Linked DNA regions of Homo sapiens: regions 2, 3, 4, 5 and 6 are each linked to region 1. The links come from fine-mapping of genetic effects on gene expression. A gene starts in region 1. Each other region holds a variant in brackets. All regions are shown on one strand. Distances are from middle to middle.

Region 1 (5,076 bases):
GATGCCAGCACAATGCTTCTTGTACGGTCTGCAGAACTGTGAGCCAAAATAAACTTCTTTTCTTTATAAATTACCAGGTCTCTGGTATTCCTTTACAGCAAAGCAAAACAGATTAATATACCTACTAATCCACACCTTTGCCCATAACTGTGCCTTCTGCCTGGAATAACTTGACTCCTTTGCCTCATCAAGGATTTACTCATCTTTAAAGATTCAGTTTTATGTCACCTTTTTGGGGAAGTTTTCCTGACCTCCTCTTCTCCTATGGATTGGGGTAGGTGTTCCACATCCTGTGCAATTGTCCCCATTATAGCACTTGCCAACTTGTAATGTCATTGTTAATTTGTCTGTCCCCTTCACTGGATTGTGAACATCTTAGGCAGGGATATGTCAGATTCATCTCTGTCCTCTAAATCCTAAGTGTACTTAACTGAATTGGAAGTATGACAGTGTCACAGTGAATTCCTCTTTGGCCTAATGTTTCTTAAAGAATATGGTACTTAAAATATGCTTAAAGTTGCACTGTTTTCTTTCTGACAATTCTCAGCACAGCTAAGATGCTTGCAGCTACTTGTAACAAAATACCCAACTAAAAGTGGGTGTCTTAGTGTGCTTAGGCTGCCAAAACAAAATACCATAGACTGGGTGGCTTAAACAACAGAAATTTTCTCACAACTCTGGAGGCTGGAAAGTCCAAGATTAAGTGTCCAGCAGGGACCTAGTAAGGGCTCTGTTCCTGGCTTGCAGATGGCCACCTTCTTGCTGTGTACTCACACGGCCTTTTCTCAGTGTGTGCATGTGAGTGCATGAGATCAAGCTCTCTGGTGACCCTTCTTAAAAAGCACCAGTTCCATCAGACTAGAGCTTGGCCCTCATGACCTAATTGCCTCTCAAAGACCCCATCTCCAAATACCATCACACAGGGAATTAGGGCTTCAACATATGGACTTCAGGGGGATGAAAACATTCAGTCCATAACAGTGGGTTAACCATTTGATTTAATAATTTTAGAAAGCCAGCAACCTGCAGTCGGTGATTCTCCAGTGTGAGATAGGAGCTATTATTGTCTGGGGATCTTCCTTTCCTTCCTCCTAGCCCTCCTCACTCTGTCATCTTCTTACCCCAGGCTCACCTCCTCTTGTGCGTAAGATGGCTGTCGGGGCTTCAGGCATCATATCCTCAAAGTTCAGTTTGAAGTTATTAAGCTGGTGGGGCAGGATGGGTCTGGGATGGGCATGAGTAACTCCCTGTCTGCAGATCTGCCTTTTAACAGTGAGCAAATTGTTCCCTTTATATCTTCTTTTCCAGACCTGGGTCGCAGGCCTCCTGTCTACACCCAGAGCAATCACAGGCAAAGAGGCTTAATCACGAGCCACACACCCACTCCCAACTTAATCAGGGGTGAGGTGAGAGGGGATGAGCTGTTGGATATTCGAACCCAAACAAAATGAGCAAGGAAATAAATCTAGCCCAGAAAGCAAATGTCCTAAATGCCTCACCAAGATATTGGCTTGATGTTCATAGCAGTGATTTTTTAATCAACAGAAGTTAAATGTTACTCTTAACATAAACCATGGGCGGAAGCTCCGAGGGCGGCATCAGAACACTTGGTTGCCCTACAGATGGCAAGGGGGTGGGTTTGTGGCGGGGCGGCGGGGTGCGTATGGAGGGGGAGAGTGGAGGGAAGAATGGGGTGGGGAGGAATTGCTAAAATGCACGGAATTGCTCCTGCTTCAAGATGTCAAGACCGAGGGAGCTTGAGCTGTTCTATACCTTTTCCGGGAAGGACAACTGAGGTGGGAAATCATTTTTGATACTTGAATGTCTTCAAACTTCTTTTTACACCCCACGTCTCTGCAGTCAACCCGGTGTGACTATAGAGTGAAGCACGCTACGCATAATCCGTTTGGGGATTCCGAACCCCAGTGGCTCTGTACGCACCCAGGTCGCTGGAGCAGGAGGTCCCAGATCCCCGCTGTAAGGCTCCGTGGGCGAGCGCCCAGGTGGGGCTGGGCGAGGTGGGGGTTCCCGGCGCCGGCCCCGCGCGCCGCCCTCCCCGCCCCCGCTCCCGCCCCCCGACCCCCGCGCGCGCGGCCTTGTGGGTAACGCGGGGCCGCCAGGTGACAGCTAATGGCGGCGGCCGCCTGAGGCGGGCGGGCGGTATAGAGCGGGCGGCAGGAGGCAAGCAGCGAAACCTTCCCGGCCGCCGCTCCCGTCCCGACGGCGGCTTCCCCAAGGCGGCAGGACTCGGCGCGCCATGGACAGGCCGGCGGCGGCGGCGGCGGCGGGCTGCGAGGGCGGCGGGGGCCCGAACCCGGGGCCGGCGGGCGGCAGGAGGCCTCCTCGGGCCGCGGGGGGCGCCACCGCCGGCTCCCGGCAGCCCAGCGTGGAGACCCTGGACAGGTAAGCGGGGCCCGGGCTGCCCCGGCCTCCCGCGCCCCGACTCCCGAGGGCCCCGCGCGAGGCCAGCCCGCCCCCTCCCCGCGCGCTGCGCAGGGCCTGGCGGTGGCGGGGTGGGCGGCCCCTCTTCATCCCCTCTGGGCCCTCCTCCCCCCCACCCCCGGAAACCTCAGCGCCCCATCCGGGGACTGCTGCCCTCGGACCTGCTGCGGGCCGCGCACCTGGCTCACTTCCGCCCCGAGAGCCCCAGCTCCTGGAACCCCGGGAGGGGCTTCGCAGCTGTCAAACCACTTCCGGCGCCGCCACCTGCTGCCCTTGGCGATCGCTTGGCTGTCCCTGCCCAGGCCACCAATCCTCTTGGGAGGGAGATCCCACCCGGGCTCTCCTCTTCTAGCATCACCTTGCCTCGTGTGGTTTTAAGACCCCAATTCTGCTGTGGCTGCTTAGGGTCTTTGATGGGGGGTTGGGAGTGAGGACGGGGAGATGGGACCCCGCGGGCGTGGGAGCTGGTGCAGATCGAGGCAAAAATCTGAGATGGAAAACGTCCAAACTGCTCAGGAGGCAAGAAAACAGAACCATTTACTTTCAGTTCTTCACACTTTGAGGGAACCAGTTTATTGTTTTCATGAACACACAAGCAAGCCTACTGCTTCTGAGGCAGCTGCAGAACTAAGAGAAATCAGTTAGAAACATAAAGTGACCGTGTCGAACTGGGAGGGGCCACCGCCTCCTCCGACGACAAGAGATGGCCTATCGTGTAACCCGGAACATCCAGTTTTCCCACAACTTGGCCATTTCCCTGACACCAGAGTGCACTCAGGCAGCATGCACTGTTGGAATGTAGCTCAGTCAGTTTTACATGCCCATTCCTGCCTGTCTTGGTCATCCCATTGTGCCAAACTTTTGGGAGTTTCCAAAAGCACAGAAACAAGAAACATTCCCTTCACTTTTGTTTCTACCTCAGTGTAATTACAATATATTTTAATAAATTAATCACCCAAGTGGTTAGTGTCACTGAAAACCAGTCACAGCTAAGACAGCACTTGAAATGGTGAGGACTTCACTCATCTGCAAATATTCAACCACACACGAGGTCTGGGCGATTCAGAGAATAGCACAACACGGCTTTTGCTGCCTTACCATTTTGCTAGACTTACCATCTAGTGGAGAATACAAACCAACCAACAGTGGAAATCGAATGTGATAAATGAGATAGGTGGTAGAGGCGAACACAGAAGTACTCAGGATGGGCATGCATCAGAATCATTTAAGAAGCCAAAGGAGACCAGAATGTGTCACCCCCAAATATGCCTCATCTTCTGGTTTCCTTCAGAGATTTTGATGATCAGGGAAAGCCTGAGAAAGCTGACATTTGAGTAATGCCCCCAAAGAGGCGAGGGATCCAGCCATACAGATACCTGGGGGTGATAGTATTCTAGTCAGAGGCCTGTGCAAAGCCCCTGAGGTGAATGTGAGCCAAGTGTTCCTAGATCAGCGAGGAGACTAGGTGTCACTAGCAGGGAGGGAGCTAGGGAGAGACAAGTAAGGGATGACGTTAGAGAAGTCACAGAGCCAGATGGTGGAGAGCCTCAGAGGCCATGGGGAGCCACTGGGGACTTTGTGCAGAGGAGTGACATCATCTGTTGTAGATTTCAGTAGGCTCTCCATGGTGCTATGTGGACAATAGAGTGAAAGGGGAAGGAGCTGAAGCAGAGACTGTCAGTAGGAGGCTATTGTAGTAAGCCAAGTGAGATGGTGGTCCAGAGTGGAGCGGAGGAGGGGAGAAGTGGTCAGATACTACATGTAATTTGAAGACCTGCAGGGTAGAGCCAATGGGGTTTGCTGAAGATTGGTTGGTTGGTATGAGAGAAGAATCTGGGAGAATTCCAAAATTTTAGCTTGTGGGAAAATTGTGTTGCTGAGATGGAGAAGTCTTTCTAAGGTGGAGCAGGGTTAGAAAATAGCAGGCTCTTCGCTCTGGACATATCAATTTTGAGATGCCAATTATATGTCCCAGAATAGATGTCAAAGATATAGTTGATCTATCTGAGCCTGGAGTTCAGGGTTGTCTGGGCTGGAGATTCAAACTGGGGAGTCATGGGCTTATAGATGAGGCTTAAATTCATGAGGCAGGTGGAGTTCACAGAAGAATGATGGAGGTCTGGAAAAGGGAATTGGGCTAGGAATAGGGCTGGGTGGATTTTCAAGATGCTTACCAGGTAAGAGTGACCCGACATGGTGAGCATTCAGATGTGAGGGGGGAGTGCCGGGTGGACTCCAAGGCAAACCTCAGCTTTCTAGCGTGTGGGGGCCGGATAACTGGCTGTGCTGCGCCCTGAGTTAGGAAACACAGGAGCAGAGTAGGTTGCGGGGCTGAGCGGCTGATGCTGGTTTAGACAGGTTGAATTGGCAGGGTCTCTGGGCCAGACTAGTGGACAGGTCTTGTAGGAACATCAGCATTGAGATCAGGAGAGTCCAGGTTGGAGAAACAGAGCTGGGAGCCTCCAGCCTGTAAGTAGTTATTGACACCAGGAGTATAGAGGGCAATTGCACAGACTACAGAGAAGGGATGGGGGAGGAATCATGGCCTCCTTTCTCAGTTCTGTCAGCTCAACAAGCTCAGATTCACACTTTTCTTTGAAGAGTGACCTCTAGAATGGAACCTGGCTCTATGGG
Region 2 (5,076 bases), 55 kb after region 1:
GATTGTCATGTTCAGGTTAGGACAAGAAAGTATGAAACACATTTTAGAAAAATTGCATAAAAAGGTTGAACACAAAAAATAATTGCAGTGCTTCTAAAGGGATGAGCACCATTTCGGTGGATGTGAAATAGCTTATTCCTCCCAAATGTGGATTTTTAAACATCTTCAAACTGACCTCCATTCTTTATACTGCTTAGTGCCTGTTTTCATGTCTAAGCCATGTCATTTTTGTGCTTTTATTGGATTTTAAGAAAAGGGGTTTGAATTAGAAGATTTCAGATGCTTCTCACAGCTCTAAGATTCTGTCTGTGAAATGTGTGTATAATTAATTTCTTTTAAAATTACATTGTTAATGCATTAGCACAGACATCCATGACTAGTCTTTATCAGTTCATTAAGAAATGAATGAGATATATAGCAGGTATAAGATGCAGTCATAGGAAAGATTATTTTTAGGTTGCCTACTGTTAAGTAAGCTATGCAGTGTAAAATTGTCAGAAATATCAGAATAAAATGAACTAGTCTGTATGTGAACAAAGAAACTAAGGGAAAAATAATTGAGGGACTCTTTAGAGTCCCAAAGACACTCAATAATATCCATAGTTTAATACAATCCTTACTCCTCTGGGTAGGTTTAATAGTCATTGATATTTTTGTTCCTCAAGAGGTGCAGAATTGGGGCCAGGTGTGGTGGCTCACACCTATAATCTCAGCGACTCAGGAGGCTGAGGTAGAAGGATCGCTTGAGGCCAGGAATTCAAGACCAGCCTGGGCAACATAGTGAGACACCCCATCTCTTCAAAAAAAAAATTAAAAAATTAGCCAGGCATGGTGGTGTGCACCTGTAGTCCCAGTTACTCGGGCGGCTGAGGCAGGAGGATTGCTTGAGTCCAGGAGTTCAAGGTTACAGTGAACTATGATTGTACCAGTGCACTCCAGCCTGGGTGACAGAGTGAGACCCTGTCTCTAAAACAATAAAAAAGGAGGTGCAGAATTTTATTATAGATTACTGTGCTATGTATTTTCGGAAATCGTACTTTTAGGTAAAAGGTACAGTTTCCAGGAGAAGAGGCCAAAACAAACTATGAATTGCAGCGACCTAATCTTTCGTTTATATTACTCCACCTGCTACTGTTTCCTCCAATGAGCTGTTTTTTGAGTTGAGCTTAATGCCATGACACCCCCTGAGTATAAATGGCAGTCTTGACCCAACATGAGTAGGTGGAGCCTTTGTTTTCCAGTTTTCATGGGTGCCAATGGGCTTGGACTGAGCCCTGCCCACTTTGACCTCCCATATCTGGTACCCAGTGACCAGAATAAGGCTTGTTGTCACTGACTCTAGAACACACCTTTCCAAGCTCCCAAATCTACAATGCAGGCTCAGGGGCTAGGAATGAAGACTCATTGTCATAGTCTGTTTGGGCTGCTGTAACAAAATATCATAAATGAGGTGGTTTATAAACAACAGAAATTCTTTCTCACAGTTCTGGAGGTTGGGAAATCCAACATCAAGGCCCCAGCAGATTCAGTGTCTGGTGAGGGCTTGCTTCCTGGTTCATAGATTAGCTGTCTTTTCATTGTAACCTGACATCATGGAAGCAACAAGAGAGCTCTCTTGGGCTTCTTTGAGAAGAGCACTAATCCCATTCACTAGAGCTCTACCCTCATGACCTGATCACTTCCCAAAGGCCCCACTTCCTCATACTACACCTTGGGGATTAGAATTTCAACATAGAAATTTTGGGGGGATACAGATATTCAGTTCATAGCACTTATATGGCTTGAAAATATGTCAATAATTTGCTATCTTTTAGTAAACATTTGTTTTTAAAAGTTTGAGAATTATAAAATATAGGACAAAACCCTGGATCTTTCATTCCTATCCTTGATTTAATAAAGCTTTAGTACACAAAAATGTCATATATTTGCTTACAATTCACAAATTCTGTGGTGCCAATAATTTATGAATAGGGCATAACTAAGCAGCATAGAGAAGTCCTGGGAAAATTGGACATAGTGTGCCTGGCCTGTTAAAAGATAGCTATTTGAGCCGGGCA[C/T]GGTAGCTCATGCCTGTAATCCCAGCACTTTAGGAGGCCGAGATGGGAGGATCACTTGAGATCAGGAGCTCAAGACCAGCCTAGGTAACATAGGGAGACCTTGTCTTTACAAAAAAAAAACAAAAAACAAAAAACAAAAAAAAACTAGCTGGGTTGTGGCAGTAGTCCCAGCTACTTGGCAGGCTGAAGTGGGAGGGATCACTTGAGCCTGGGACGTTGAGGCTGCAGTGAACCACAGTCGCACCACTGCACTCCAGCCTGGGCAACAAAGTGGGACCCTATCTAAATAAATAAATGCATGAATGAGAGAGAGAGAAATAGAGAAAGATAGCCGTTTGAAATGTGAGGCCACTGTCAGAGTTGCGAGGGGCAATCTTAAAGGCTCCAAGAAAGGATGAACCAGTAGATATTGTTAGCATTTCAGCCAGAGACATCACATCATTGATTTAGTTCATCTAAGAACAAGGGTGCCAGTAAGAACCACCAGAATTAGTTTCCAGAGGTTTCTGAAGCAGTAATATTCTGATGGGATTCCTTAGAGGAGAGTTGTGTGTTTCTGAGAGCAATCCTTAAGATGGAGAGAGAAGCAAATCTTAATCCACGGTATCTGAGCATAATTCCTTAAGTCAGCTAATATAATAGCCTGGTGAAGAAAACAGTTTCAGGTGGAGTTTGGACAGTCCTGGATTGACCATTGTTCTAATTGAAAAGCCTGGTGCTAGTCTAGTAGTAAAGCTAAACTAAAAAATAAACTTCTCTACCAGTGATCCTGATGTGATCATTCTGGAGATGTGAAGATTTGTCATGATAGTGTGCACACAGCACTCTGATTGAAGAATAGGTTTTTAAGTAAACCAACTTAAATACAAGCATGCTGGGTAGTACTATTTGGCTTTGCTTCATTGAGTAGGTGATGAATATTTTACTGTGTTTTTACATTAGAGTTCTGGCGCATGGTAGGCACTCAGCACATGCCTGCTGTTAGGGTAATTATTATCACTTCCAGATCATCTCATGGCCACAACACACCAGCTACTGGCTAGAACCTGCTGGCAATAGTAATAGTCTTCACTGGAATTCTGCAAAATCCCATCAAGAATTACCTAAAACAATCAAGACGATCTGTGGTTTTGCTCCCTCACTCTGCCAATATGGTGAATTACAGTAATTGATTTGTTTTGTAACATAGATTTTCATATGTTAAGCCAGGCTTACATTCGTAAAGTAAACCCCACTTGGTCATGTTGTGTTACCTTTTTAAAATGTATTGCCAGGTTCAGCTTGCTCATTTACACTGGTAAGAAGTCAGGCGTGCTGTAATCCCAGCACTTTGGGAGGCTGAGGCGAGTGGATCACGAGGTCAGGAGTTGGAGACCAGCCTGGCCAACATGGTGAAACCCCGTCTCTACTAAAAATACAAAAATTAGTCGGGCGTGGTGGTGCGCACCTGTAATCCCAGCTACTCAGGAGGCTGAGGCAGGAGAATCACTTGAACCCTGGTGGTGGAGGTTGCAGTGAGCCGAGATGGCGCCATGGTGCTATTGCACTCCAGCCTGGGGGACAGAGAGAGACTCCGTCTCAAAAAAAAAAAATTCAGGGGTGTATGGTCATGGAGTTGTCTTTGTAGGAAGGTTCTTAACTAGGAGTTGTTTATTTAATAGATGCAGAGCTATTCGGATTTTCTATTCTTCTTGAGTCACTTTGGGTACATGTTATGACTGGATGTACTGCTCCCCTTACCCCCGACCTGGGATGTGGCTGCAGCGGGGAAGCTGGCACAATAGAGGGCTCCCCTCATTTGTTTCCCTTCTCTCAGGGTCACAGTCCAGTACTGCCTGTTGCCAGTGTCTGAAAACAGTCATTTCTTATATTGTATCCAGCTTGCTAGATGTTTCTGACAGAAGGGTGAGTCTGGGCTCTGTCCTGCCGCCATGGTGAGAAGTGGAAGCTACATAAGCTTTTCTGGGCATTGAGTACAACAAATTTAGTTGCTGCTGGTTGTTTCTCAGCCAGATCTATAAGTTTGGACCTAAAACTGTAGGTAGTTGAACTTTACATGGGCTCAGTCTTCCTTTAAATCTTTGACTATATTCCAAGTTGTAGTTTCGCTGTCTTTCATAAAAAAGTAATATTACTTTTAGAAATTGGACTCTATGACTAAACCTTATTTTTCTCTTCATTTAAGTTTCCTTCAGCATTCGAGTTTAATGAGCTATTCTTGATTACAATTTTGGATCACCTTTATAGCTGTCTTTTTGGGACCTTTTTGTGCAACTGTGAACAGCAGCGATTCAAAGAGGTGAGTATGCTGCATCCTTGTCTGTTGCTTTCCCTGTGGCTCAGGCACCTCTCCTCGGAAGTGCTACTGTAGGAGGGCTGAGGGGAGGGAGGACTGCGCTCTGGTGCTATTGCTGACTGTAAATGCCCTCCCAGGGTTCTGGCCAGCCCCACCGCATGTGTCTAACACAAGCCCCTTCCTTTCTAGGCATGGGGGGCTGGGACCCAGCGAGCCCGTGGCTCTCTCAGGAGTAGATGAGTGCTAGACCCTGGACCTCCTGACTCCGAGTTCATGTAGTCTCCGCTGCACCAACTCCAAAACCGTGGGATTCTGCTTTTCATCCTCTGTGGTGTTGGCCAGATCATACTTGAAGGCCTTGGAAATGGAGTCTGCTGATTAGCCAAAAAGCCCACTTTAGGTAGCAAGCTAACACTTTTTTACATCAAAGTAGTAAAGAAGCAGTTACCAAACTTCTCAGAGTTACATCTCATTTCTTTCTTTTTCCCTCAGTGTGGGATAAAAGAGAAACGTGGTCAAAAGTGAGAAGGCATTGGAAAAAGGCAGCTTAAGGAGTATATGATCCTGTTAATAGACAAGGACCAATGCCTGTGAGCCAAGTATGTTAGGACAGTATAGAATTCAGGAGAAAGCAGTCTGTCAGTAACGCCCGCCTCCCCCTCTCTCAGCAGCCTCCCCACAGTTGACAGTGCCCTCATTCTGTGACCCCACCTGGTCCTGCCT
Region 3 (5,076 bases), 38 kb after region 1:
CAGGAAATTATGTTGCTTAGGCAGGCATCCTGGGGCTCTTTTACTAAGATATTTTTATGGCTGGGGTGAGCATTTGCTAACAACTGCTTTAAATGTTCTCTAACCTAGATTACTAAGGTAATGCTCCCAGCCTTCTCAGATCATGCCTAAGAGCTTTACAAGGTGTGGGGTTTATTTTTTAACAGGTGATATACAATTCAAAAGATACAAAAGCTGTGTATAGTAAAAAATCAGTCTCCTTCCACCCACCACCCTGCCACCCTGTTCCACTCATTTCAGGCACCCACTGTGGCCGATTTCTAATGTAACCCTCCACAGATAGCCTATGCACATGAGAATGTATGTATAGTCCTTCTTTGAAAACATAAGTGGGGCCAGGCGCAGTGGCTCATGCCTGTAATCCCAGCACTTTGGAAGGCCGAGGCAGTTGGATTACGTGAGGTCAGGAGTTTGAGACCAGCCTGACCAACATAGTGAAACCTTGTCTCTACTAAAAATGCAAAAATTAGCCGGTAGTGGTGGTGGGTGCCTGTAATCCCAGCTACTCGGGAGGCTGAGGCAGGAGAATTGCTTGAACCAGGGAGGCGGAGGTTGCAATGAGTGGAGACTGTGCCGTTGGAGCAGGATAAAGTATAAAAGGAGAAATGAATTAAAAAAAAATAATTTCCTTATTTATGGCACGGTATCTGGCTTATAGGTGCCTGATGTATGTTGAATAACCGAGTTTTGCTAATTGTTTAACAGGATATGAGGAACTTGCGGCTTGCTTATAAACAGGAAGAACAGAGTAAACTAGGGATATTTGAAAACCTCAACAAACATGCATTTCCTCTTTCTAACGGACAGGTAAATACACCAGAGTAAACCTTTTCTGCATGCATTTGTGGGGGTCCAAATATCCTATGTTTAATTATTCCTTTTTCCAGAGGTTTTTTTTTTTCCTCTCTTTTTTCCTCTGTTGGTGACTAATATTAGAATATTTGAAATTTGTCAGTTCTGGGTAATGCTTAAGAAAAGCTGCTACTTTGTTGCTGTAAAATTTACAGACTAAAATAGGAATCTTAATACACTCAGCTCATATTAGAATGAAAAGCTTTAATATTGGGTATATGATATAAAAAGAAATAGTAACATATGTGTTTTGTGGTTTTTGTGTCCAGGCACTATTTGCATTCAGCTATAAAGAAAAATTTCCAATTAATGGCTGGAAAGTTTATGATCCAGTATCTGAATATAAGAGACAGGTAAAGTATATTGCTTATCAAACTGAAAATAATAGGTTGAGCATCTTTTTCTCTTCTAAAAGGTTAGAAATGATGTGGTGGAGAAGAAACTTTTTCGAACAAGTTATGCACAGGTTTAACTGCTAGCTTATAGGTTCTCCATCTTTCCTTGATTCTCTCTTCTCCCTGTGCCAAACCTTAGACTTTGTCATGTTTGTTCATCCTGTTTCCAGAGGGTGAGTGGGACTCAAGGACAAGGACGGGTTTAAAAACCAAATTTGCCAGATGGTTTTTATTAGATGTTCTGGTAAAGAATTGATGAGTAAGGATCCAAACCACTGACTACAGTTAGATTCGAAGCATGTGGTGTGACTACATCTGTCTGATCCAGTGTTCCCGGGTCTGGGAACTCTTCAGTGCATTGTCAGCTTCAAATTATTCCACTAAGATCTTATTTTCATGACGTTTGTTTCATGACGTTGTCTCTACCTTATATTTGGTATAATGTTTTACGTTACTTATTTTAGACATTCGTAAGAGGTATCTGTGTTTCTAAAGGACTTTTGAGTATATTCTCAAAAATAACAGAGCTCATTATTTATAGAAAATAGGACAAGAAATATATAGAAATGTGATTCTAGCGTATAATTTTCATGTTTTAGTATGGTTTGGATATTCTTATGCTTCTTTAGATTTTTAGAAATGTCTAGGAAATGGGTTTTACCGAATAAATATATATATTGACTTTTAAGTTACAATAAACAATAAATTATAAACGGATTTTAGTTGCAAATAAGAAATGGATGTACTTCATGCTTAGTACTTTTTCAAAGTGTAAAGTCATGCATTTCACCCTCTTCTTCTTTCTCCAACACCTTACAGGGCTTGCCAAATGAGAGTTGGAAAATATCCAAAATAAACAGTAATTATGAGTTCTGTGACACCTACCCTGCCATCATTGTTGTGCCAACTAGTGTAAAAGATGATGACCTTTCAAAAGTGGCAGCTTTTCGAGCAAAAGGCAGAGTCCCTGTAAGTAATAAACATTGTCATTTATATAGGAATATATATTGCGTTAGATCTAATATGGAGAGATTTAAGACAAAAAAGAAACTAGTGAACAAAAATGGAAAGCAGAAAAATAAGCTTATAAACCTGAACATACCTTTGATTCTCAACAAATACCTAATTATATAAACAATCTGTTTGCTATGACTCCCTCTTTTACGATTTCCTATAACTAAGTATAAGGGGAACTTCAGTCATACCCTCAAAAAGTAGTAGAGAATGACAAAGGAGTAGCAACAACAAGTTA[T/G]CATGCTATTGTATTACCAGTTGGCATTGCTGGTTTCACTGAATCATCCTAGAGAAAATGCTTCTTTCTTAGATACTGAGCATGATGCCATAGCTGCGTGGGAGGGACATCATTACAGAAGTAGTAGCAGACAGCTGGGAGTAATGGTTTGAGCCCAGAGTTTGCATCTGTTGTAATCCTGAGTCACTTGGCCACTGGAGGAAAATGAGAGGTGGGGTGGCAGAGTGTCAGATTTTATAAGAGACTGTATATTCACTTTGTCCTTACCCTGCCACGTATATTATTGTTGAGATACAAAGATGTTTTTAAAATTAGGAGACAAGGTAAAATTAGTCAATCAAATTGGAATGGGGCTAGATTTTAGTAATAGTTTGATTTAGGATTTGTTTTTCTTAGAATCATAGAATATTGGGGATGGAAGGGGATTTTTAGAGCTCATGTAGTCAGAATTGTTTCATCCTGACCAAAACATTGAGTCTGATGGCCACTACAATGCTGTGATTGGCCTGCCCACTCTCACTTTTGAAGAAAATATGTATAAGAGACCGTGCTTGAGAAGGGAACTTGTTTTTCCTACCAGGTAATTAGAGCATACATTCTTTAGGAACTGTACTAATATTTATTGCTTAAAAACACTAGGTGTTGTCATGGATTCATCCGGAAAGTCAAGCAACGATTACCCGTTGCAGCCAGCCACTTGTGGGTCCCAATGATAAGCGCTGCAAAGAGGATGAAAAATACTTGCAAACAATAATGGATGCTAACGCACAGTCACACAAGCTTATCATCTTTGATGCTCGACAAAACAGTGTCGCTGATACCAACAAGGTATATTCTTAATAGCACTGCAGAAACACTGGATATTTTCATGTCCTGTCTGTAAATCATTATGCAGTTGGAATAACTCATTGATTTCCTCACCACCTGAAGTTAGAATCATTTGGAGTCCCATAGCTATTCCTCCCTGGTGTATGCTCCTTGGGCTGTGTTTGGTGTCTCACATGGGTTGGGATCTTGTCTGTTTCATTGCTTCTCTACAATATCCTGTCTGCTAAATCAATTAAGTAAAGACCTAGAAAGACAATTATCATCTAAAGGATTTAGCATTTTAATGAAATGATCGTGAGGTCCTTGGAAGTCCGTTTAAGGAATATAGTGGTTAGTTGATTAATTCATGTCTGGTCTGAATTTCTTTTAGAATGGAATCAGCCATGTGAAATGTGTAAATGTACAAAGTTTCCATAAATCTCATGGAGCACCTGTGTAGTGTACCTCGGGTGGCAGTGAGACATGGTTAAAAACACCTCCGTTCCCATGACTTTCATGATATCACACCCTGAGTTTCTCTCGCTCTTCAGCCTGGCCTTCTCCATCTCCTTCACTGATTTCTCTTCCCAGTCTTCAAATGGCATTGCTCCTCGAACTTGGTCTGGGGTCCTCTTTGCTCTACACAGACTCCTGGGGCCATCTCTGATGACACGGCTTTAAACACTGTCTGTATGCTGAGTTCAACTTGAGCTTGACACTGCAGTTTCTCTCCTGTCCTGATCCCTCCTAAGGTTGAGACTGGATTTCTATCCCATTGTATGGTTGACATCTCTGCTTGGCTGTTTCCCAGACCACAAACCCTCCGTATATTCCAACTGGCCTGAGAGGCACGATGGCAAGTTGGTGAGACCCCTTGGCTTTGGAATCAGTTACACCTGGGTTTTCCTCCAGGTTCTGCCACTTGGTGCTCTAGAATCCTGAGCCGGTTACTTAACCTCTCTCTGTGCCTCAGGTTCCTCTTCTGTAAAACAGGAGATAATATCAGTGTCTCATGTCATGGGTTGTGTGAGGATTAAAATTCAGTGAGAAGAATGCATGTAAATGACTTAGCACAGTGGTGAGTGCATCCTCAGGGCACAGTACATGATGCTGATAAGCTCGCCACCCCTGTGGTCAAGGGTGTTGCCCAGGTGTCTGACTTGAGGGTGAATAGTGGTGTCTGTTACTGAGATGGGGAAGACTGGGAGAGGAACAGGGCAGGGAGGAAGATGGGGAAGTATTAGTTTTCTGAGGCTGTCATACAAATTACTACCAATTTGTTGGCTTACAGCACCAGAAATGTATTGATCACAATTCTGGAGGCCAATTCTGCTCCCTCTAAAGGTTCAAGGGGAGAATCTGTTCCTTGCCTCTTCCAGCATGGGGTGGCTGCCCCAGCCTTCCTGGGCTTGCAGCCACATCACTCCAATCTCTTCTTCCGTCATCACATGACCCTCTCTTGCTCTGGGTTTCTGCGTCTCCTCCTTTCTCTTCTAATGACACTTGTGATGACATTTAGGTTCCACCTGAAATAATCCTGGATCCTTAAACACATCTGCAAAGACCCTCTTTTCAATTAATCTTGGAATCCTTAAACACATCTGCAAATCTCAGGATCCTTAAACATCTGCAAAGACCTTCTCTTCAAATAAGGTCACATTCACCATTGCCAGGGATTCGATGTGGATGTCTTTGGCGGGGCCACTTTTCAGCCTACCATAGGGAGGCATC
Region 4 (5,076 bases), 49 kb before region 1:
CCCTAATAAGTAAATGTTTAAAAACAAAGGTTGAAGAAATTAAGACTTAATGTCACCTTGCCTTTTTCAAGTCTAGACATTTTTTTTCCTTAAAAGGATATTTGTGCAAAACTTTTGTATTGTCAGCCTAATATGAATTGTAATTTTTTTTAATTCACTTGTTATACACTTCTAGCCATAAAACCGCAGAAGTGATGCTGTGTTCTCAGTGCACCACCTTAGGAGACATGCTGTTGATTTGTCCCGTTATTAGTGATGTTAACTGTGATTATTCTGCTAAGGCAGTGTCTGTCATGTTTTTCCACTATAGCACTACTATTTTACCCATTAAAATTAATAAATGCTTTATGTAATGATTTTTTTAATTCACTTGCTTCTCCAGTTAGTAGTGTCTGTTCATATCTTCGCGATATAAATTGTACTTGAAAGTATGTTCTTTAGCTCATGTTGTTAGAACATGATGCTAATGAAGCTAGGGTTACAAGTTCAGTCTTCCTGTGCTCTGTTTGGACATGCTCTTCTGTACCATAGCCACAGACTACACCCCTACCCTGGCTGGCTGTCTGTCTTGCTAATGCATGCCTTGCTCACAAGGACAACTGGGCTAGGGTAGCCTGGCTCAGTTTTGTTCATGTATTCATTCAGTTCATATTTATTGAGCATCTACCGTGTCATTTGTGTATGTGGGTGAATTCTATGGGATTTGAAACAGAGAAAATTGAACAACTGTGCCCTTTCTACCATGCTTGGTTGCCATCTTGATCCAGTAGTCCCCATTATTCTGAATGAATGAGTGTCTACTGTAGAGCAGATAGAATTTCTTAACTTTTTATTTAGTCATGTTATTGATCCTTCTTACTTTATCATGGCCACCAATTTGTATTTATTTTTTCTAAAATGGCTTTTATAGGGAAGACTAAGTTCCCCATCACCTCTACATATTTATAGATTTACTATTAGGTACTATTAAGCGTGGTAATATGTTCTTTGCAGTATGCTTTCTAACCACCCGGCTGTTGGCTAAGTCTCAGAGCTTTGCTTCCACCCAGAAAACATATGTGCCTTTAATGTGAAATCATTAATATCTGATAGTTGGTTCTTTTTATAAAACCTCATGTAAAAATACAAAAGGAAGTGACATGAAAGAGATCTTATTTTGCATGTAAATAAGATATAAACTATAATAAAATATTGCTGGGTAGAGAAATAATCAATGTGCATTAAATGTTTCCATTAATGGATATGTATTCTCTTATTCTCAAACAGATTTCTCTTAATTTTATGAGTCTTTAATGTATGAGTAATGCACGTTCATTTTAAGCATTATAAAAAATACTGATAAGCAAAAAGGAGTCTGCCACCTAGTGAGAACCAGTGTTAACACTGTTGGTATATATCCTTTCAGACTTCCTTCTAAGCATATATCTACACACACACACACATATGTATATATATTTGAAAAAAGTGAAATTATTCTATAATTTGTGTCTCAGTCTATAGAAATTATTCTATAATTTGTGTCTTTATCTAGCAATATCTTGTAAACAACTTCCCATGTTGCTAAATATGATCCGCTCATATGCCAGTGTGTAGATGTACCATGATTTAATCAGTTTTCCATTGTGAGACATTCAGCTTCTGCTTAATCTTTTGCTATTGTAAGTAATGCTGTAATAAACATCTTTCAGTGGTTAGATATTTGTGTACTTAATTATCTATGGCTTCTAGATATGAATTTTAATAAGAATAATACAGTGCCATATACTGTAAAAGCACTCATGGTAGTTGACACTGTGAAATGAACATTATTTGTACCTGTTTAGCTCTGTAATAAGCATCCTTTTCAAAAAGTAGTAAGAATCCCCCCTCCTGCAAAGAAATTAAGAGGAGAAACAACTCAGAGGAGTAGCATTTCCTAACATGGCACCACAAAGAGAATAGGGGTCGGGAGGCCATTGCCTATGGCCCGACTGAAATTTACAACTTGATGAGGGTCTTTCTCAATAATAAATAATTTTTATTTTTAATAATTTCTCAAATTATTAAAATAATAAAAAATATTAAAAAATATTTTAATAATTTCTCAAATAATAAATCTTTTAAATGTGTAGCAAATTGCTCCTTTAAAGTGGTCTCATGTCTCTTGTCTCTCTTGATACCAGGGCCATAGAGGGAAAGGAAGGCAGATCTCATATGTGCTGTGCATTATAGATTGGAAGGTGGAGGTTTAGGTCCCACTGGTACCTTCTCCAAGGCTCCCAGTTCTGAGCCTTTGGACTCTTATTAGGCAGGGGCTACAATGGTGTTTTTAATTGATCTCTAGCATGGTGCAAGGACCATATTTGTTCTGAGAATGAATAAATATTACTGTATAATCTTTTCTCAATAACCTGTTGTCATTATAAACACTCATTTTTATAAACATCAATGTTTGTCATTTGCCATCATGGGGTAGGTAACTTCAGAGACATCAGGGAATTTGGTGTTATGTTGAGTGAGCCCACATGATTAAGCTTCTTTCGTTCTTTGTATCTGCATTTTGTAGTTTTTGCTAACTGACTTTCCTGGCTGCTGGGCCTGCCTCTATAAGCTAACACGAGCCAGTGTTTATTGCAGACTTTCTGGGCATTCTTCTTCAGGCCACCGAGCAACCCTATGAGATTATATTATTCTCCCCATTTTATGGAAGAGGAAAGGGAAGCCAGAGAAGCTGCGAGTGAAATGCCTGAGGTTAGAACCACGGCAGAGATGGCACTAGACCCCAAAGTCCACATTGTCGCCCACTGTGCTGCAGTTCTCCAGCTTCCCATTTTTAATAGCTTTATTGAGATCTACTTCACATACCAAACAATTTCCCATCTCAAGTGTACAATTCTGT[C/T]GTTTTTGGTATATTACATTATTAGCTACCTTTTACGTGTATTACTTTTCACATGCTATGAGCTTGGCAACCAGGGAGCAAATGTGCTAGACTTGTGTATAAAGTTAGAGAAGATAGGTTCTGAATCAGGGCTTGATGAGGTCTCCTAGGCATTGGATGTCCACACTGCACTGTGGAGACGAGCAGATCTATGCTCTTTGGGCTGTCCTGAGATCAGTTTTGCTCTGCTCAGGTTTTCTTCCTTCCTGTGTTAGATTCTAGAATTGAGACTGTTGGGAAAATGATCTGTAGACAGAGTTGGTATTATGAGAAACATATTGTACCAGAGACAATTTCCTTTACCTCTCACTTTTTGCCAAAGCTGCTTCTATATGATAACAAATCCAGTGCAAGCTACATAATTAAAATAGGATCAAGCTTTCAATTTCCTTTAAGTGATATAACTATTTTTAGGTAAGCAATTAATTTATATTGGATGTGGTGCTAATTAAGAAAAGACTGGTAATTGTACTTGTTTCTGAGTTATATTATTAAATGCATGTCTCTGGGCACACACACGCAGTGAGATTGCAAGTGAACAAGTATTCTATTTTAGCACAATCAGATTCACTTCTTGATAACCGTCAGTGCTTTACTGTTTTACAGTTTTAATTGTTTGCTTGGAGATTTGCTTTCTTGATAGCTTAAACTTTCTGACTTAACCATAGGTGCTGTCATGGATTCATCCAGAAAATAAGACGGTCATTGTGCGTTGCAGTCAGCCTCTTGTCGGTATGAGTGGGAAACGAAATAAAGATGATGAGAAATATCTCGATGTTATCAGGGAGACTAATAAACAAATTTCTAAACTCACCATTTATGATGCAAGACCCAGCGTAAATGCAGTGGCCAACAAGGTGAGTGGACTTAATGATGTGCTGGACACTTAGCTTACATATGGAGTGCAGTGTTTTCTGTGAATGTTTTTGCCATGATATAGAAACACGTGGGTTTAAATTAATAGTTAAGAAAACCAGTTCTCTTAGACAGAAAGTAGTTTTAATCACAAAACTTAAACAAAATTGAATATATCAAAATCAAATGCAAATAAACTTTAGGTAAATAGGCATGTCTAGACTGTAATGAAATTGGGTTTTGGCCAGGACCTTGGCAGGAAAAAGTTAGATTCTCTTTAAAGCCCTTTCAGCTGTGGATGATCACTCATTGTGTACACTATTGGGGCATCTGTAAGAAGCTATGGGAAGCTGTAATTATTAAAATACTAAATTTGCATGCTTACTCAAACACTCCCTCCCCCATACCCGTATATACTCACATATGTGTATTCTCATTTACATAAGATAATTCAAGAAATGAGTAGGTCCACGTATGTGAGTTTTCCAGGCACAAACATATACACAAAGTTGACCGTTTTCAAAGAAGTCTGTCTCAATTGACTTTTTGCTGTAAGCAGAATATGCTGAATGCACTTAAAATTGATTAGGGTCATCATGAACATCAGTGACTGCATAGTGTTGCCTTCAGAAGCTGCTGCAAGGTGTATGGCTGTTTGCTTGCTCTACTAAATGGCCCCAGATTGATGTGCATTTTACGTTCTATTTCTCCTTTTTGTTGTTTTTCTTTTCCTTCTCCTCCCATCATTGCTGTCACTTTCAAATGCTCACGAGGGGCCTGCCCCAAATTGCTCACTCCCATTCCAGCTTTCAGATTTATTGTTTCTCCTCTGCTGTAAGCTTAAATTTCATCATATTTAATACATTGCTTATCCTGAGGTTATTTGTCTAGCATCTTCAATTATTCAGAACATAAGACAAGAACCAGAAAGCAAAACAAGTTCTTGAGCAGCTCAGATAGGTGCAGCAGCTTCCTAATAGAATCTGTGATATCTGTCTGGACTAGGATGTGTCAGACTGCATGCATGCAGAGCTCAACTCTTCATTATTTGTGCACAGATCTTCTGTCCTACACATTTAATCCTGGGCCACCTCCCCATCCCCATGCATGCTTTTAAACCAGCTATTTGTTACTACGGTTGTTTTTTGGTCCAGAGATGATTTTGAAATTATATGTGAAGCAGTCAGTAAGTTAAATTGACAAGTAAATTAGGAATCGTAAGTGAAACACTCAGGAAATTAAATCTAACTCTAAATATCTTCTTGGATTGTCCTTAATTTTATATATCTGTGTACCTATTATCT
Region 5 (5,076 bases), 65 kb after region 1:
GGATTCAGTCCTGCCCCGCACCCCCAGTCTCCACATGGGTGGCCAGGGCATGGTTGGTTCTGGGTGGTGAAGAAGACAGATAGAGGCAGCCTGTACCTCCATGGACAGATAACTGTCTGCTGAGACTTTTTTCTTTTTTATTTATTTATTTTTTGAGACGGAGTCTTGCTCGTCACCCAGGCTGGAGTGCAGTGGCATGAGCTTGGCTCACTGCAACCCCTGCCTCCCAGGCTCAAGTGATTCTCCTGCTCTGGCCTCCCAAGTAGCTGGGATTACAGGTGTACAGCACCATGCCTGGCTAATTTTTGTATTTTTAGTAGAGACGGGATTTCACCATGTTGGCCTGGCTGGTCTCAAACTCCTGACCTCAAGTGATCCGCCCGCCTCGGCCTCCCAAAGTGCTGGGATTATGGGTGTGCACCACTGCGCCAGGCCTGAGATTTTTCTTTTGACTTGAATACTCTCAGAGTTTAACTGCAGTCCATCAGGAGCGTGTACCCAGGGCATTGTTTAATAGCATTGCTCTGTCAGCCAATGATACAGAAATCTGCCTTCCTCTCCATCCTCCTGCTCCCTCATCCCTCTCACCTAGGGTCTTCATGATCTCTAGATCGTCTCCACACTCCACTAGCCATGGGGCAGTCTGAACTGCTCATGTTCCTTTTCAGCTGCCTGGCCCTGGAACCTCAAGGATACGTCACTATAGTACCCCGGCCTGCCAGCTGGAAAGCTCCCTCACTGGTGGCCTTAGCTCCATGCTCCATCTGCTGGGTGCGCCCCGCTGCCCCAGGCCGCTGCTTGGCCACTCCTCACTGGATCCTTTGCCCTCTACCACAGACCAGGCTAGTCATCACTTGCCTCTTCTTTCCTAGATGGCTTTCTATTTTGTTCCACAAAGCTTCCACTGCAAATGCTTTTCTCCTCTGGACCCTCTGAGTTGGCCCTGCCACCCTTACGACCTCAGGAGTGTTTTCCAGAACACTGTGATGGGTGCTCATTCAGCCTAGTACTTGTACGCTGGGCCTGGGGAGTTGGGAAGGAGTCCTGGCTGCAGGGGTGCTCCTGCATCCTAGGGTGCCCTTAGCCACATCTCCCCTGTACACGCCCTGCCCCTGCTTGAAGCAGATCCCCCGTGTGAATGAGCCGCCCTTTGTGTCTTCACATGTATGAAAACAACTAGTGTTTGATCACCTCTTTCAGCTCTTCCCAGAGTCTTCCTTGGATAGGAGAGACTTGCATCTGTGTCCCTCTCCCACTAGCCAGGGAGCTGCTGGGACTTGTGCTGCCCTGGAGCCTTTCCCGTTGAGCGCCCTCTTCCCTGCTCACCTAGTGCTCTGGCGGCCCTATGTTGATTGCCCAAACTAGCGTACTTTGAGAAAGAGAGTGGAGGCGCTGCTAATAATCAGTCTGTAGAATTCCCCAAGACACTCGATACTGCACCGGCCTGTTTGCCTGCCTGCTGCCCCTACACACCACAGGCTTTGAAACCACAGGGCCCTCAGGATCTAGCATGGTGTTTGGCAACTAACGGAGACTCGACAGATGTGACTGAATGAACGCATGAGTGAATGAAGAGGTGCGCCCCTCTGCTGCAGGCCAGTTCCCCCTGCACATCTGCTCTCTCCAGCCCCTTGAACCTGCATTTATTCCTTCTCCCTGTGGTGGCTCTTGCCCCTCAGCCTACAGAGGACTCACACCTGCCCACCCTAAACCTGTCCTGTCCCCACTGGCCTCTCCCTCAGGTCTCCCCTCCACACCCAGTCCTCTGGGATATTGGGACAGCTTTCTACCTACTCTCCCCGCCTCAGTCTGCCTTGTGTCCACGCTCCACCTTCCTCCAGAGAGGCCTTTTGCTCCTGCCTAACAGCCCAGACATCACCTTCTGTGGCTGCCCGATGGCTCCAGCTCCCCACGCCCTCTGCCACTTGGCCACCACCTGAGCTCCTGGCATCAACTTAGCTTCCTTCTTCCTCTTTTTAAAAAAATTTACATTTCTGGCCGGGCACAGTAACTTACGCCTGTAATCCTAGCACTTTGGGAGGCCGAGGTGGGCAGATCACGAGGCAGAAGTTTGAGACCAGCCTGACCAACATGGCAAAACCCTGTCTCTACTAAAAATACAAAAATTAGCCAGGTGTGGTGGTGCACGCCTATAATCCCAGCTACTCAGGAGGCCGAGGCAGAAGAATCGCTTGAACCTGGGAGGCGGAGGTTGTAGTGAGCTGAGATGAGATTGCACCACTGCATTCCAGCCTGGGCGACAGAGTGAGACTCCGTCTCAAAAAAAAAAAAAAAAATTACATTTATCTCTCCCTTTAGACTTTGTGCTCTGCAAGACATGTCCCTGCTTGTTATTAATTGATCTTTAAGTTATTAATCTAATAACTGCTTGTCACTAGATTGAATCCTTCCCCAGATGAGAACTGAGTTTGAAGGCGAGCTGTCTTTGAAATGGTCCATGTGCCCAGGAACTATGAGTGAGCGTGAGAGGTTGCTGGTCCCATTAGCATCTTCTTTCCTGGCTTTCAGCCCAAGAAGTCTATGTGCAGGGTGACCTGCTGCCCTGTCACTGGAGTCCAGGTCCAGCACTGTCCTCCTTTCTGACTTCAGGTGCATTATTTGAGATGCT[A/G]AACACAGGGGCCCATCAAGCACTTCTTTCCAGTCAGTGGTCAACTTGGGAACCAAAGCCTACATCCCCCTTCCAGCACCTTCCTCTTCACTGATGTGTATTTCTACTTAGGCATCTTGCTGAGTTATTCTGTCCTGGGTGGCTTCTATTTCATCTATTTTGGCAACAGGGAAGATGGGCTACAGAGTGTCAGAAGTCACTATGTTACTGAAATCACATAGGGTTACCAGGTGATATTCTTGGTGACTCAAAGGCCCGGGTGGTTGGTGGAGTGTCATGAACATTAGCAGAAAATCCAACAGAACCATGCCTGATCTGGAGTGCCTTTGGCTAAACAGAGCCTCTCGATTACTGCAGGAGACCCCCGTACCCCTGCCACGCTCCCCCTTGTGCAGCAGGTTGCAGAGGTGAAGAAATGCTGAACCAGCAGAGAGGGTTAGAGTGGTGTCCCACAGGGGTGCACCCAGGCTCAGATTCTTGCCCGCCGCGTGAGGCAGGTAACAGACCTTTCCTAAAACCTACAAACTGCGCGACAGATCTGTTCCCAGATGTGGTCAGGTTCTCACTCATGTAGGCGAAGCCACCTGCAACATCATGATGATGATGGAAACCACAGCGACAGCGCCTATAACCTGCAGTCCTCTTGTGTGCCAGTGGGTTCTGTACACACATGATCCCAGTTAACGCTCCCAGCAATTCCACGACGTAGAGAATGAGGGAAGGGTCAGAGAAGCAGTGACTTGGTTGAAATCTTGCTGCCCAGTGCGTGTAGTTGTGGAAGGATGCCCCCGACAGGGCCAGATCCCGTCTCTGGCAGTGACTCACCGCCTGATCTGCAGCAGGGTCCTGAGCCTCACGGGGACCTCACAGGGGGTTGCTGAGCAGGAAGTGAATCCATTCCAAGTGCACTGTGCTCGGAGGGTAGTAGGTGTGTGGTCCTGCTTTTTGCATTCTCCCTCCATTGTGCTACACAGAAGAGAGAACCAAAAAAGAGTACATGGGCCGCAGCTTGTTATCCTGTATGCAACAGGCATGTGTCGGACACCTCCTAGGTGTGGGAATGGGGGTGGGGGAGTGCATTGAAGACAGGCAGAGATCAGTGGCTGGTGTGGGTGTCCAGTGACAGGGCCTGAGGAGCCAGGTGAGGCAGAGAGAAGGAGGAAGAGAGGGGAGGGGAGGGAGTGCAGGGGGGTAAACGACAGGGCAGATGCAAGCCTGTTGGGCCTCTTTTCTCTGAGAAGGCAGTGGCTCGATTGGCTGCCGAGAAAGGGGTTCTTTGGGCATCCATCAGAGGATGGCTGGGTGTGGAAGGCCCAGGGGCGTCCTATTTCCTTTGGGACTGTCTTGCCTTATGTCTTGTGATGCTAGTACCCATGCGGCAAACATGACTGGCCCTTAGATGGGAATTTTCTCTAACACAATCCTCTGTTTAAGCCTCCGAGTTTTCTATTCCTTCAGGCATGCCCTTGATTTGTTGCAAATGAAAATATGTGAGTAGGCCAGGCGCGGTGGCTCACGCCTGTAATCCCAGCAGTTTGGGAGGCCAAGGCGGGCAGATCACTTGAGATCAGGAGTTCGAGACTAGCCTGGCCAACATAGTGAAACCTCATCTCTATTAAAAATACAAAAATTAGCCAGACACAGTGGTGGCGGGCGCCTGTAATCCCAGCTGCTCAGGAGGCTGAGGCAGGAGAATCGCTTGAATTCGGGAGGCGGAGGTTGCAGTGAGCTGAGATCGTGCCGCTGCACTCCAGCCTGGGGGAGAGAGTGAGACTGCATTCCGCCTCAAAAAAAAAAAAAAAAAGAAAAAGAAAAGAAATAGGTGAGAAAAGATGCAAACAGCTGGTGAAGAGATGATAGTGGTGCGTTTGAGCAGTGCTGGGTCTGCCCTGGGTGTGTGTCAGTGGTGTATTTCCCTGCGTGTCTTGCTTCTTGCTGAGGTCACATGCCTGTAGATGGATAATGGGAACTTGATTGCAAGGCGTCCCTTGTCTGATCAGAATTAAATGATCCTACAGACAGGAAAACGCATGCCAGATGGGTCCTAAGGGTAAGAGAGGAGCTGGTGCCACCTCCCAGAGGCCTGTGGGATCTGCCTTTGCCATCACACTCCACTCCTGTCCCCTCTGTTCTTCCTGTGGCCTGCCCAAGGGGGTCATTTCTTCTCAGCCCACTGGGTGCTGGTTACTGAGCACCTTGTTATTAGAGGGACCTGGCTGCCCCCTTGCGGTCTCGCTCTCATCCTCCTTCCGTCTCCCCCTTCCCTCCAGGAGGGCTGATCACCATTGGCACACACGGTGGAACAGCTCAGTCTTTGAGGGAGTGGGGGAAGGACCTGGTGAAAGATGAGCCAGAGGGCCAGGCTGGGGCCAGACTGCAGAGGGCCTCGAGGCCCCTCTCAGGGCAGGGGGAAGAAGTCCCTGGAAGGTGTTAAGTGGCCAGTCACA
Region 6 (5,076 bases), 100 kb before region 1:
TGCTGGATTTTGTTAGTGTGTCTGGTTGCTCTTAATACAGCCTGGCAAAAAGATATTTATAAATATCCACAGTCACCTTGTTGAATTGGATGTGGTTTACCTCCCGCTGACTTTATATGTATCTATCTGTGTCCTAAACTTTGATAAAATAACCAAAGCATTACTTAGTGTTCTGTTGTTGCTGTAATCTTCTTAAGTCTAAATAAATCCTTGCGTTAAAATGGTATTTGTGTATGTTCTGAATAGAATGCTTTCATTTATGCCTGAATTGTGATGAATATGCATTATTTAAATGAAGTATATACTTTCCCTAGAAAATACTGATTAAATCAAATCTTACCAATTTGATTTCAGTCAAATCCATGCCACTCTAAACTGCCATCATTTGGAGAAAACAAAATTCTTAATAGAGAAAATAGTGTGAGTTAAATTGTCCATTCTTTTTTCATTCTGCTCGGCTGCCTCTAAATTATCTTTAAAAAATAAGGAGTATGGAAATTTGAGGCCTGTTGCACAATTAATAAACATTAAGTTTTTTTAGATGGCAATTAGAGCACTACGAATTAAAATTCCTGGAATGTGTATGGCGTCTTCTGCTGAGCTCCCCCTTGTGCATTTAGCTCCCCTTGTCTGTTCTCCCCTAGTCCCCTGCACCTTTATTGGAGCTCTCACATACTGCCTGTGCTCTGGTTCATCGTTTGTATGTCTTATTACCACTGGGGCCTAGTATGGAAATAGAACCTGTAAAGTAGTACCGTTTGCTCTCAGTTGCCATATTTAAGTCTCAGATGTCACATATGTTTGAAATTGCATACAAATTCAGTTGATATTGAATGTTGTGTTTCTTGGTAGAGTTTCCAGGATGGCTTCTGCATCAACTTCTAAATATAATTCACACTCCTTGGAGAATGAGTCTATTAAGAGGGTAAGTTGAATTTTCAGATTTATCTGTCTCTTTCCTTGCATTTATTTTGATATTTGAATATTAGGTCATTTTGGGCTGGCCTATTGAATTATGAATTTTATTATTCATTCACATATAAATACATTTATACATGTGGTTTCTTTATTGTCTCACCTTGTTCTAGAAAAGCTTTTTTTTTTTTTTGGAGACAGAGTCTCGCTCCGTAGCCCAGGTTGGAGTGCAGTGGCAAGATCTCAGCTCACTGCAACCTCCGCCTCCCAGATTCAAGTGATTCTCCTGCCTCAGCCTCCCTAGTAGCTGGGATTACAGGCGTGTGCTACCACACCCGGCTAATTTTTGTATTTTTAGTAGAGACGGGGTTTCGCCATGTTGGCCAGGCTTGTCTTGAACTCCTGACCTCAGGTGATCCACTTGCCTCGGCCTCCCAAAGTGCTGGGATTTACAGGAGTGAGCTACCACGCCGGCCCAGAAAAGCTTTTAGATACAATACCTTATATGTGTTAAGTGAGTTTTACATTTGTAAATCCTTTCACATAACTTCATTTTTGAAAACCTCTGTCTCGTGAAATTACTGCTAGACCTCATGTTTAAGGTACTAGGCAATCCTCCACCTGGAAAGGTTGCTGAAGGACATACTGGAAGGCTAAGGCCTGCTGAGCAGGCTGCTACGCCTTCCTAATTATTGGCATTATTTTCTAATTATGATAAAATTGTTGCATAACCAAAACAAATACAACTTTAACAGAAAATGGTTCAAGGTATCCAGGGGGAGATTGTGTAATTAGAGGGAGATTTTGGAATGTGCATTCAAAGGAAGGGATTAATTTAAAATAAGCTTTATTCATGGCCCTTTAAGGCCCTAAGATTATCCACCAGAAAGGCTAATTTATACTCCCACCAGGTGGATAGAGATGCCTAAGCAATCAGAAGGGAGCAAAAGGTGATCTTTTCATTGGTATTTCTTGATTACTAATGAGGTTAACCTTTTTTAAAAAAGTGTGTTTATGGTCAGGTGAGGTGGCTCATGCTTGTAATCCTAGCACTTTAGGAGGCCAAGGTGGGAGGATCACTTGAGCTCAAGAGTTCGAGACTGGCCTAGGCAACATAGTGAAACCCTGTCTCTACCAAAGATACAAAAAATTAGCCGAGTGTGATGGCGTGCGCCCATAGTTCCAACTACTCAGGAGGCTGAGGTGGGAGATTGTTTGAGCCTGGGAGGCAGAGGTTGCAGTGAGCCGAGATCTCACCACTGCACTCCAGCCTGGGCGACAGAGTGAGATCCTGTCTCAAATAAGTAAATAAAAGTGTGTTTGTTATTAGTTTGCATTTCTCTTGTGAAGTGATTGTTCATGTCCTTTATTTGGCTTTTGGGGATTTTGAGGGGAGTTCTTATTGATTATGTGTTCCGTGTGTGTGTGTATATGTGTATGTGTGTGTATAATTTTTTTTTGAGACAGAGTCTAACTCTGTCCCTCAGGCTGGAGTGCAGTGGTGCAATCCTGGCTCACTGCAACCTCTGCCTCTTGGGTTCAAGTGATTCTCGTGCCTCAGCCTCCCGAGTAGCTGGGATTACAGGTGTGCACCATCACACCTGGCTAATTTTTGTATTTTTAGTAGAGTTGGGGTTTCACCATGTTGGCCATGCTGGTCTTGAACTCCTGGCCTCAAGCTATCCACCTGCCTTAGCCTCCCAAATTGCTGGGATTACAGGCATGGACCACCACACCTGGCTTGTTCCTTATATTTTGATAATCAGCTCTATAATATGTTACAAGTCTTCTTCCTGATTTATTGTTGGCCTTTTAATTGTATTTATGGTATTTTGATTTTGAAATACTGAAGTTTAAAGTTTTTATGTGATCACATATATCAATCTATATTTTCTGTTTTGGGTGCCTACAAGGACCATCCTCATCTCCAAGATTATATGTTTTTATTGTATTTAAGTATTTTTATGTTACCAGAATCAGTTCTAAACACAGGAGTAATTTCAAGAATGTAACTATAAATCCTTTGTGTA[A/G]TGCTGCTCTGGTATAATGTATAGCCTATGTTAATCCCATGTTATCCTGTTTTAATCAGACATTCACTTCCCTTATTTTGTGGTTGACCTAGAACTGTGGTATTTAAAAGGTATACTGAGTATTGCATTTGCTCGTTATGCCTGTTTTTAGTTAGTGAGAGGGAGTGTTAAAGGGTGATAATTTCTTTCCTCTCTTACAATTTATATAAGGTGTGTGGTTTTGCTTCTCATTGAGGAAGGCATTCCTGGCTGAGAACAGTTTGTCTTGCCCAGCTGGTTAAAATGTTTAGCTTGCAAGTACTAGAAAATTTTTTAAATTGGCTAGGAATTTTCATTCTTGCCTCTGAATGAAAAAAAAAAACATTAAAGATTCAGCATAACACCCCTCTTTGACAGCTTATATCTCACCTGAATATACAATTCACATTTCTCTTGTTTCATAATAATTCTCTCCATTTGCATAGCCTCTGATAATTTACAGAAGTGTGCACAGTAGCTCACACCTGTAATCCCAGCACTTTGGAAGGTCAAGGCAGGCAGATCACTTGAGGCCAGGAGTTCAAGACCAGCCTGGCCAACATGGTGAAACCCCGTCTCTACTCAAAATGCAAAAATTAGCTGGGCGTGGTGGCACACACCTGTAGTCCCAGCTACTCAGGAGACCGAGGCATGAGAATCTCTTGAACCTGGGAGCTGGGAGGCAGACGTTGCAGTAAGCCAAGATTGCACCACTGTTGCCTGGCAACAGAGCAAGACTGTCTCAAAAAATAAAAGTGTGCTTGTATATATATTTTTTCACTTAATACTCACAAAACTGCTCTAACGGAAGCATGAGTAACTTCACTTATGAAATGATTGCAGTGTGATTTTGGACAACAAATAGAAAAAAATGAAATACTGCTGAAAAAAACTTTTTGCCCAAACAGATGTTAGTGATGTGCCTCAAATGTCATCAGACTAGCACCTGCAACACATCTTCGTATTAATCCACTAGGGCAGCTGAATAACCTGAAAGACAATGGGTAGCTATGGCAAATTAGGCTCTGCGAACTCGCCTGCAGGTTGTAGTGGTTAATATTACTGTGCCCACCTAGCAGAGCTGTGGAAGTGATTGAATGAGGCACATGCTTGGGAATACCTCTAAAGCCAGGAAGCCTAGAGAAATAGTAAAGTGATGTGAAGAATTTGTACAAATGGCTCCTAAGACTTTTGCCAGCTCAAAAGTTCTCTGACAGACCACTCTTACCTCTTATTAGGACAGGGATCTTAGTAAATGTGAGGAAGTAAAAAGAGAGGAAGGGTCTTAGTGAAATAGGAAACGCAATAGGTAATCAATGATTTTCGGGCATTGTAATAGGATTCTGGCTAATGGCTGTGCTGTTATTCAGTTAAGCCTCTGTGGAATTGAAGTTTTCCTTCCTACTCTTCCCAAAAGATGGCTGAATATGAAAAAAAGAAAGCTGCTACAGTGTATGTGTATCTATAGAACACACTTAATGTTTACTTTTTATCACTTTCCCGAAAGCTGTTAACTTTAAAGTGCTTGGAAATGTAGTTTAAAAATTAATATTATTGAAAAGCATGCTAGCATTATTTAATACTAGAAGTTGACACATCTAATTAATGTTGGTGCCAGATTGTAACTTTTTTGTTTGAATTTTTGTGCCAGTTTTCCCAAATGCTAAATCTCTAATGCTTTTTCTTTAAAAAACATATTTCTAGTGGCTTGTATTCCTAGTTGCTTAAAAACAGTGTGTAAATGTAACGTCATTACTTCTGATGCATCTGTTTTGTTTCTAGACGTCTCGAGATGGAGTCAATCGAGATCTCACTGAGGCTGTTCCTCGACTTCCAGGAGAAACACTAATCACTGGTAAGGACCTGCTGACATAAGATTTGCATAACTTGAGGAGAAGTCTGGCAGGATCAGGTGGCTTCAGTCCCGCTTACTCTTTAGCAGTCAGGCTTAGACAAATAGGCTACCTTTGTTTAGAAGCGTTAACACAGAACTCTCTGCATCCCTTTCTTGATTAAAGAGTTCTTTTGAGAGCTTCATGCTCACAAGGGTAGTGATATTCTTGTGTCTGTACCAAAGACTGAGAATGATTTAGGGGAAAAAAATGTGGATTAT

Which allele goes with the higher level. Positions count from the first base shown, and alleles are read on the strand shown. Sizes are in standard deviations (SD) of each study's normalised expression. Not every link is listed here.
For the expression in cerebellum of the gene that starts at base 2,123 in region 1, G is the low allele of the variant in region 3 and T is the other (small effect, 0.23 SD a copy in GTEx).
For the expression in fibroblasts of the gene that starts at base 2,123 in region 1, allele G in region 5 goes with a higher level than allele A (small effect, 0.21 SD a copy in GTEx).

Evidence for each region. PIP is the estimated chance that this variant, and not a neighbour inherited with it, causes the effect.
Region 2: its variant is fine-mapped to the expression of MTMR1 in tibial nerve (GTEx, PIP 0.97). The same link has a PIP of 0.9 or more in pancreas.
Region 3: its variant is fine-mapped to the expression of MTMR1 in cerebellum (GTEx, PIP 0.95).
Region 4: its variant is fine-mapped to the expression of MTMR1 in T cells (TOPMed, PIP 0.93).
Region 5: its variant is fine-mapped to the expression of MTMR1 in fibroblasts (GTEx, PIP above 0.99). The same link has a PIP of 0.9 or more in unexposed skin.
Region 6: its variant is fine-mapped to the expression of MTMR1 in whole blood (TOPMed, PIP 0.95).

The regions. Positions count from the first base shown.
Region 1 is chrX:150,691,274-150,696,349 of GRCh38, forward strand. MTMR1 (myotubularin related protein 1) reads left to right here and starts at 2,123. Exons shown (of 16, transcript NM_001306144.3): 1 at 2,123-2,403. The coding sequence starts at 2,258. RefSeq lists silencers at 2,054-2,123, 2,434-2,573 and enhancers at 3,467-3,566, 3,587-3,666.
Region 2 is chrX:150,746,488-150,751,563 of GRCh38, forward strand. It overlaps MTMR1 (myotubularin related protein 1), which reads left to right. Exons shown (of 16, transcript NM_001306144.3): 14 at 4,243-4,356. Among named protein-coding and RNA genes, the nearest start is that of MTMR1, 56 kb to the left of the region's middle. The variant C/T (reference allele first, on the strand shown) is at 2,058.
Region 3 is chrX:150,729,365-150,734,440 of GRCh38, forward strand. MTMR1 (myotubularin related protein 1) reads left to right here. Exons shown (of 16, transcript NM_001306144.3): 7 at 745-846; 8 at 1,161-1,244; 9 at 2,106-2,255; 10 at 3,178-3,366. Among named protein-coding and RNA genes, the nearest start is that of MTMR1, 39 kb to the left of the region's middle. The variant T/G (reference allele first, on the strand shown) is at 2,539.
Region 4 is chrX:150,642,098-150,647,173 of GRCh38, forward strand. It overlaps MTM1 (myotubularin 1), which reads left to right. Exons shown (of 15, transcript NM_000252.3): 9 at 3,586-3,774. Among named protein-coding and RNA genes, the nearest start is that of MTMR1, 49 kb to the right of the region's middle. The variant C/T (reference allele first, on the strand shown) is at 2,879.
Region 5 is chrX:150,756,516-150,761,591 of GRCh38, forward strand. The region is part of intron 15 of MTMR1 (myotubularin related protein 1); the gene reads left to right. Among named protein-coding and RNA genes, the nearest start is that of MTMR1, 66 kb to the left of the region's middle. The variant A/G (reference allele first, on the strand shown) is at 2,630.
Region 6 is chrX:150,591,753-150,596,828 of GRCh38, forward strand. MTM1 (myotubularin 1) reads left to right here. Exons shown (of 15, transcript NM_000252.3): 2 at 853-925; 3 at 4,746-4,818. The coding sequence starts at 863. Among named protein-coding and RNA genes, the nearest start is that of MTM1, 26 kb to the left of the region's middle. The variant A/G (reference allele first, on the strand shown) is at 2,946.